Linked DNA regions of Homo sapiens. The protein of the gene in region 1 interacts with the protein of each later gene in a pairwise test. Each region holds a gene or a part of one and is shown on either strand. Other genes may lie near its edges.

Region 1 (3,801 bases):
TTTTGCAAACGAGGGAACAGGCACTGAGAGGTTAGTAACTGCCCGCGGTGACACAACTAGTAAGTGCAAAGCCCAGATCTGAACCTGAACTCTGGCTCTCCGCAGACCATACCGTTGCTACTAATTTCTTTTCTTTGTTACTCATATCTTCCTTTGAATCTTGATGGTAACTTAAAATCTGGAGATGGATGGCATGATACAAAATCTGAAAACTGAATAGCTACTTTAGATTTCCATCCAACTAAACCAACAAGCAGGCTTTTCTGTGCAAGGCTTTACTTGTGCTTTGTGTGTGGTTTGGAACTGTCTTCCATCCTCACAGAGCCTCTCGTGTTTGGCTCTGAGCTGCTTTAAGTCTGAGGAAGCCAGACAGCAAGGCTGGGTCCAGCATCTCCCTGGGCTGCACTGCAGCAGGCTCTGACCAGACGGCGTCGTGCTGGAGCCAATGGGTTCTCAGAGTGGCTCTCTGGTTAGAGAAAGGATTCAGAGGCAGCCCAGGAAAAGGGCTAAAACCCTCAGGGATACAGCTAATCTGAATACTGTCTCTATTTAATTTTGGACTAATTTGCATTTGGGTAGAAAATAACCCATTTCTTAACTAAAAATCAGCAAAATGCTGGTCAGCAAATATGTCTGGAATAACATTCTCCTGTAGTAACTGTAACATACAACTTCTACAGTGTATCTCCGAAGATGGAGCTGATCTTAACCATCTAAAGATTACAGGTTAGAAATATGACAATTTCTGAGAATGGCTGCGGACACATATGTATGAATGTGTACATTTTGGTAGCTTTAGTTAGCATTCATGTGGCAGTTCCTTCTGCTGGAAGCTGAGGAGTTCTGCTGTCATTGATTCCTGTTTCTAGAGGACTATGCCTATGGTGGACCCTTTAACTTGTCTTAAAAGAAGTCATTTTAAAGTGGCAGGGTTAGCAGCGGCATTAGGTTGGTTAGTGGAAAGATTTGTGGGAGACTCGCAAGCCCCGGATCTCAGTGCTGTTGCTTAGTTACAAAGTAAGTCGCTTCTGGGCTGGGCTGAGAATATATAATAACATTTCTCTAAACATAACTAGCTGGCAAAGGTCTCGTATAAGTTGGGATTCTAAAGTGTTTGGAGAAAAGAATTAGCCAATTAACAAAAAATCACAAAGGACACAAGAGCTTTGGGCCATACTTCATTTGCCCCCACATTTGCTACATTTAGAAGATGCATGCCCTTTGAATGGCGTGTCTATTTAGTTTCACATTATTTTGCTAGATTTGTTCCTAATCACCATTTACAAAAGTAGCACACATGTGTAAATTAGTACAAGATGGCGGCACTTTCTGAGCAAGTATCTGAACTGGACCTTTTCCAAGGGAAGCAGTCCCCGTGGCCACAGACTGCCCCCTGGGTTGTGCCAGCAGCACTGGATACAGACTCCAAAGACCCGGCATGAAGTCTTGCCAGAGTATCCTGGGGCCACTGACTGGTCTTTCTGAGCCTCCATTTTCTCCCCTTCACAATGCAAATAACTATTTCTTAGACTTGTTATAGGTAAAACATGGAATAAACAAAGAAGAAAACACCTGTGGAGTGCCTGGTGTCCAGTATAGGTTTTTTTTGTTTGTTTGGGACACAGTCGTGCTCCGTCATCCAGGCTGAGGTGGTTGCGGCACAATCACGGCTCACTGCAACCTCGGCCTCTTGAGCTCAGGTGATCCTCCCACCTTAGCTTCCCGAGTAGCTGGGACTACAGGTGTGTGCCATTATGCCTGGCTAATTTTTTTTTGTTGGGGGAGAGGGGGATAGAGACAGGGTTTTCCCATGTTGTCCAGGCTGGTCTCAAATTCCTGGGCTCAAGTGATCCTTCTGCCTTGGCCTCCCAATGTGCTGGGATTACAGGTGTCAGTATAGATTTTTATTATCTGTTTTCTCAGTCTTCAAAGGGTCCCACGTTAAATGCTACACCATTTCCTAAACTCATGCTCACATCCCTGGCTGGTTCTACAGGCCTTCCACCAGGACCTCTGGAACCACTTCTTATCATGTGCTGGGAGTGGCATCTGATGTATGGGGAGATGCAAATTCCCACATACCCCCTTACTGGCCCTTTGTTGGTCCCGAATGGCCAGAATACATAGATGTTCAGTACCAAAATTACACACTTGTGAAAAACCAATTTGGCACTGTTCTTTCCACCTTTACTGTTGCTGGAAACTTGAAACCCAGAATACAATTTTACGGTTAGACCCTGCAAATTGCAGTTTGTCATGTAATCTTTTACATTTTGGTCCATGGACTTATGAATAGGATGCCAAACTCTAGTTGACTATGTATATGATTACTTTTTCTTTCTACTTAAGCACAAAATTCATTATTAAGTGGGGAAATACAAAGATAATCTCAGATTAGTTTACAAAAGCAGGCAAACAATGCATAGCTATAATTGCATATATACATATAAAATGTATATATAATATATAATACACGGGGGTGGAGATAGAGAAGGAGAGAGGATATGACATCAAGCTATTAACTATACTGATATGTAGAAAGCAAACAACTTGATAGTCAACTCTTACTTTATCACATCTCATCAGCCCCAAATATCTCAGAGACTTGCTGCTCTGTGCAATCAGGGTGGCTCCTTGGTCTGTGATTTCTTTACACCATCCGACATCCACAGTCTCTATTGTCATGCTGTATCGCCCAATGGCTATCAGTGCTGCAAGAAGGGACGCAGAGAAAGCATTAATGTTAGCAGTGTAAGGGAGCTCTATCTTATTATGACTATTCATCTCATTTCCTCACTAAATTTGTTCCTGAAATTTTGTGTGTAAATGAACGTTTTATAAACTAAACTAAATTTGAAATGCTTTAGGAAAGCTTCCCTATGACAAACCCATTTGCAAAGTGAATAATCATTCCATAATTTCCCTTTCATTGAACACAACCTTTTATCAGTTTTATTCATTACAAGGTTACCTGTACTTTCAAACATTCAGCTCTGCAGAAGGAATAAATTAAAATGTATTACAGATACAACATTTAAAAAAACCCAAGTACTAACTTAATTTTACCCAAGATAACTTTAATTTTTTTTTAAAGAAGAACCCACGTAAACACCATTTTGAGGAGTGTTATACTGCAAGTGAATGTCTTTACCAATTGGCATAATTTTTTCCATCTGTTCATGACCTGTAAAATGTAAAAGTATAAAATATTTTTCACATTAGCGCTTCTTGGGACTGTTAGGAATTAAGAGTACATCATACATACTGCTGATTTTAATTGGTGCCATGCTAGAGTGCAGTAAACAGAATGCATTTGTTATGGTGAATTTCCTCATCCTATCAGAAGTCTTCCTTCTATTAACATACAAAATGAAGCCTGTCGTCTGTAAACTATGAGAGTATCTGTAGTCTTCTCGGCTGTTTAGCATTGTACCACCACTAAAGTGCAGACACTTATCCCATAATCTATGATGTGCACTACTAATCACTGCAAAGTCCCATAACCCATCACCCCATCACAGCGACCAAGTGGTGAATGTGGCTCTTTTCTACCGACTTTGATAAATGTGCCCACCTTTATATTTAAGGAGCCCAGAAAACAAATTTCAATACCCCAGCACCAGTTTATGGTGCACTGGTTTGTGAATCAAAACCCTGAAAACAGTGCCACAAATATCAAAAAGAAAAGAGAAATGGTTTTCTGATAATTTCCTCATTCTAAGATAGCATAAGTTGATTTCTGTGACAATAAAGGTGAATGATAGTTCCCAAAATGTGTTGACTAGATGGATAATTTAGAGT
Region 2 (3,715 bases), on another chromosome or scaffold:
GATACAAAGGATTACAGTTAAAAAAAAAGTAGATGACTTATATGTAAATCTTTGTAATGGTGTAGCATTTTGTGACACAACTACCCCTTAAGAAAAACTGCAAAGTCATGCATAAGTATAGTCCCCGAGTTTTGGGGGAACTAAAGAGGAACTAAAGCAAATGGAGAAACTGAAGGTAATCAAAATAATTACCTTCAGGTAGGTTATCATTTCAGCAACTGGGATTATTTTATATACAATAACTGGGCAGCTTAAGAAAGGGGAAAAAAAAGATGGAGGTCAAGCAGGCTTCCCACTAAACCATGCTGCTTCTTGAAAAACAAAACAACAAACAATAAAAACATAATGCAACTTCCCGGTGAGAAACAGGTTCCTTATTGCTATTTTGGCAGGTTGCTCTCTCACTGTCTTATCATTTATTTCACCATCTGTAGTATTTCTTGCAAAAGTAAAGCCCTCATTTTCTGTTAGGGAGGTATGTGTTTACCAAGCTGTACCTAAAATCATTTATGAAAATGCAGCCATTCATCAGGAGACAAAAGCCAGGACAGAGAGCAGTCCCGTGTCTTCTACTCAGCTGGTGTCCTGAGCTCCATTCAGGTCTCAGACTATCCACATAATGGCCTTAGGCATGGCTTAGGAGTCCAGTTTCCCTGTCTACAAACTAGAACAGGAGGCACGGATTGCTCTTTACAGCATGTGGACAAGCTTGCAGTATACAATGCTCCTTCTTTCACATCATTCTATGAGAAGAATTCTACCAGGAACAAGTCAGGGTCCAAGAAGAAAAGAACTACCTCCTTCCCAAGCTACCCATACTCTTACCTTGCAAGAAACAGGATGCTTTCCTAGGGCTTTGCTAAAGTCTACCAAAGATTCAAATGTCTTCTGGCTGGTCATTGGTGTTTTAATGACCTGGAAATGCAAAGCAGAGAATTATGACCAGAGTGTCAGCAAGCAACTTCGGTAGAATGGTTCAAGGAATGATTGATCAAAAGGCTCCATATAGGCAACAAAAATAGTTTGAGTTTCAGCATAGAAGTAGGAATCTCAAGCCAGAAACAATGTATTTCCCAAAATGACTATTTTAAAACAGAGGCCAAATGTGGTGGCTCATGCCTGTAATCCCAGCACTTTGGGAGGCTGAAGCGGGCAGATCATGAAGTCAAGAGATCGAGACCATCCTGGCTAACATGGTGAAACCCTATCTCTACTAAAAATACAAAAATTAGTTGGGCATGGTGGCATGTGCCTGTAGTCCCAGCTACTTGGGAGGCCCAGGCAGAAGAATTGCTTGAACCTGGGAGGTGGAGGTTGCAGTGAGCCGAGATCATGCCACTGCACTCCAGCCTGGGTGACAGAGCAAGACACCGTCTCAAAAAAAAAAAAAAAAAGACAACAGTGTACTGTAGAATGTACAAAATCACGGCTTAAAATACAAGTGTATGTGTGTACGTGTGTGTATAGGACAGTTTTACAGGCTTTGTTGTTGAGACAAGCCTGGGTTCAGTTGCACCACTTACTGGCTGTGTGACCCTGAGTATGTTTCTTGAAACTGAAATGACACTGAAATCACTCTGTTCACCTCAGGAAGTTGAGGTGAGAATGAAATTACATTGGGAGTAAAGCACAAAGCCTAAGCACAAATGCTCAATAAATGCTGACTTCCATTATTTAATTATTAGAAGTCTGGAAGTATATGATGGTTGCCCTTAAAGTCTTCTACGTGGGACCTGATCTTCTATTATAGAGGAGGAGGAGCCCCAGGAAAGTGAGTAATTTGCCCAAGTGACAGTTCTCCTGGATTCCTGAGTATTTCTCCCATGACTCCACCCTCTGCCACACAGATGCTCTAGAGGCCAGCGGCCCCTTGGCTTCAGAACAGACTCATCCTTCTGGGGAAGGCTTTCATTTACAGCAAGCGGGGCCTGCCACCTGCTCCAGCAGCCCTCCTGACCTCTGTGAGGTACAGGCAAGGGCACAAGGGCTGCCCTACTGGCATCTGTAGGGGATGGCACCAAGCACGATGCCCGGCACAGTCAGCCCTCAGTAAGCAGTTAGAGAACTCATGTGTAATGGTAAATGGAAAGAACCAGATGAAGTATATATATATATATTTTTAAACAGGAGAGATGCGTGTTTATTCACTCATTCATTCAACTATACACACACACACACACACACACATACACACACACATACACACACACACACACACACATATATATATGTAAAATGTAAAGGCCAGTAAAGAACTTCAATCGGAGTCAAAGGGTTTACTTTAGACCCTTCATGGGATCTTAGGCAACTGCCTCACCTCTCTTCTCTGGAATGGGGATCATGGGCATGTCTTCCCTGTGCAAGAGGGCCGTCTGACTCGGTGAACTAATGAGCTAGTGTCTGTGCAGGGATGAAAGGTGCTATATAAACAAAGAAGAGTTCTCACTCCTGTTTTCGTGTGATCACAGCCTGGGCCATGGTGTCATGTCGTGACATCAAGAGAAGTGAATGGATGGAAACAGGAAAAGACACAGTGAAGATGGAGAAGAGGAGCAGGACGAGAAAGACCAGAAGCCACCCTGCGGGTACCACAAATCAAACAGAATCCCAGAGCTGTTTGAAAGGAGGTCTAAAAAGTCTCCATCAAAACCACAGACTGAGCTGGGGGACAAACACTGCTGACTATGGAGTTTTCAAATTAAGTTTTTGGTTTAAGGGAGTTAATAATAGTGAAGGTTTGTTTCTTTTTAAACAGGAGAGATGGATGTTTATTCACTCATTCATTCATTCAACGAACAGTAATTTGTACAGATACGCTGCTCCTAGTTCCAACAGAGTCTGAAAAAAAATACATATATATATACATTTAAATGAGCCCAGTCCTAAGTAAAGGAGCCACTTAGCTTATTATACAAGTTATTTTGGTGTACACCACCAGCAACACAAGGAAGAGCTAAAGTTAAACAATAAAAACTGAATAGAGAAGAACACTTTTACAAAATACTTTCTAAAAAATAGTAGCATTTGCTAAACATCAGCTGTTAACAACCAACACACTACATTTCCAAAGACAAAAGCATACATTACCAGATAAATGCAGTTGAAAACATTATTAAAGTAAATCTACAGAATGTGCCTATCTCCAAAACACTTATATATACAATATAATAACTAAAGAAATCAACTAGTCCCTAAGTACTGAAATGTTGGAAATGCATGCCACTTCTTTGCTCTTAATCTGCATGAGATAAGAGCTGTTAAATGCTGTTTCTTCTGTTCCCCAAATCCCTCCCCTTCATTCTTCAATTTCTTCAAAAAATCAGCCTTAGGGGATAGGAGAAAATAGGAGGAAGCTGAGAAGCAATGTTAGTAAGACAGAAAAAGTCCCATTGCAAGATGGTCAAAGTTGTCACTTGAGAGAAAATGCTAAAAAAAATGGTCATTATTATGACTTATTAAAAATGCTTATGCTGAGTAGTGGTGAGGGAATGAGGAGGATAAAGGAAGGAAAAGGTAGTTGGAAAAGGCAATAATGAAGAAAACAGACGATACACACTCCCAGAGAGGCCACAGCCAGTGTGTGTAGGTTTGCCTGGCCCCACATCACCCACATGGCAGCATCAGCGTCCCCCACACTTCGCAGGGCAATAACTCCTCAACCTCAGAACAAATGCTACTTTAATAGCGGCTGCTCCTCAGACCCTGTAATTAGGAC

The links. Proteins that work in one complex are often made in the same cells at the same time.
Region 2: the proteins of FBXL17 (region 1) and HADH interact in a two-hybrid assay, tested with the Homo sapiens proteins (one large-scale study listed by BioGRID).

The regions. Positions count from the first base shown.
Region 1 is NC_000005.10:107,878,469-107,882,269, forward strand, and holds part of FBXL17 (F-box/LRR-repeat protein 17), read right to left. Parts: intron 2,712-3,801; coding exon 2,569-2,711; coding exon of another isoform or gene 2,395-2,568; exon of another isoform or gene 1-2,394. UniProt on the Homo sapiens protein: Substrate-recognition component of the SCF(FBXL17) E3 ubiquitin ligase complex, a key component of a quality control pathway required to ensure functional dimerization of BTB domain-containing proteins (dimerization quality control, DQC).
Region 2 is NC_000004.12:108,020,674-108,024,388, reverse strand, and holds part of HADH (hydroxyacyl-coenzyme A dehydrogenase, mitochondrial isoform 2 precursor), read right to left. Parts: intron 916-3,715; coding exon 826-915; intron 1-825. UniProt on the Homo sapiens protein: Mitochondrial fatty acid beta-oxidation enzyme that catalyzes the third step of the beta-oxidation cycle for medium and short-chain 3-hydroxy fatty acyl-CoAs (C4 to C10).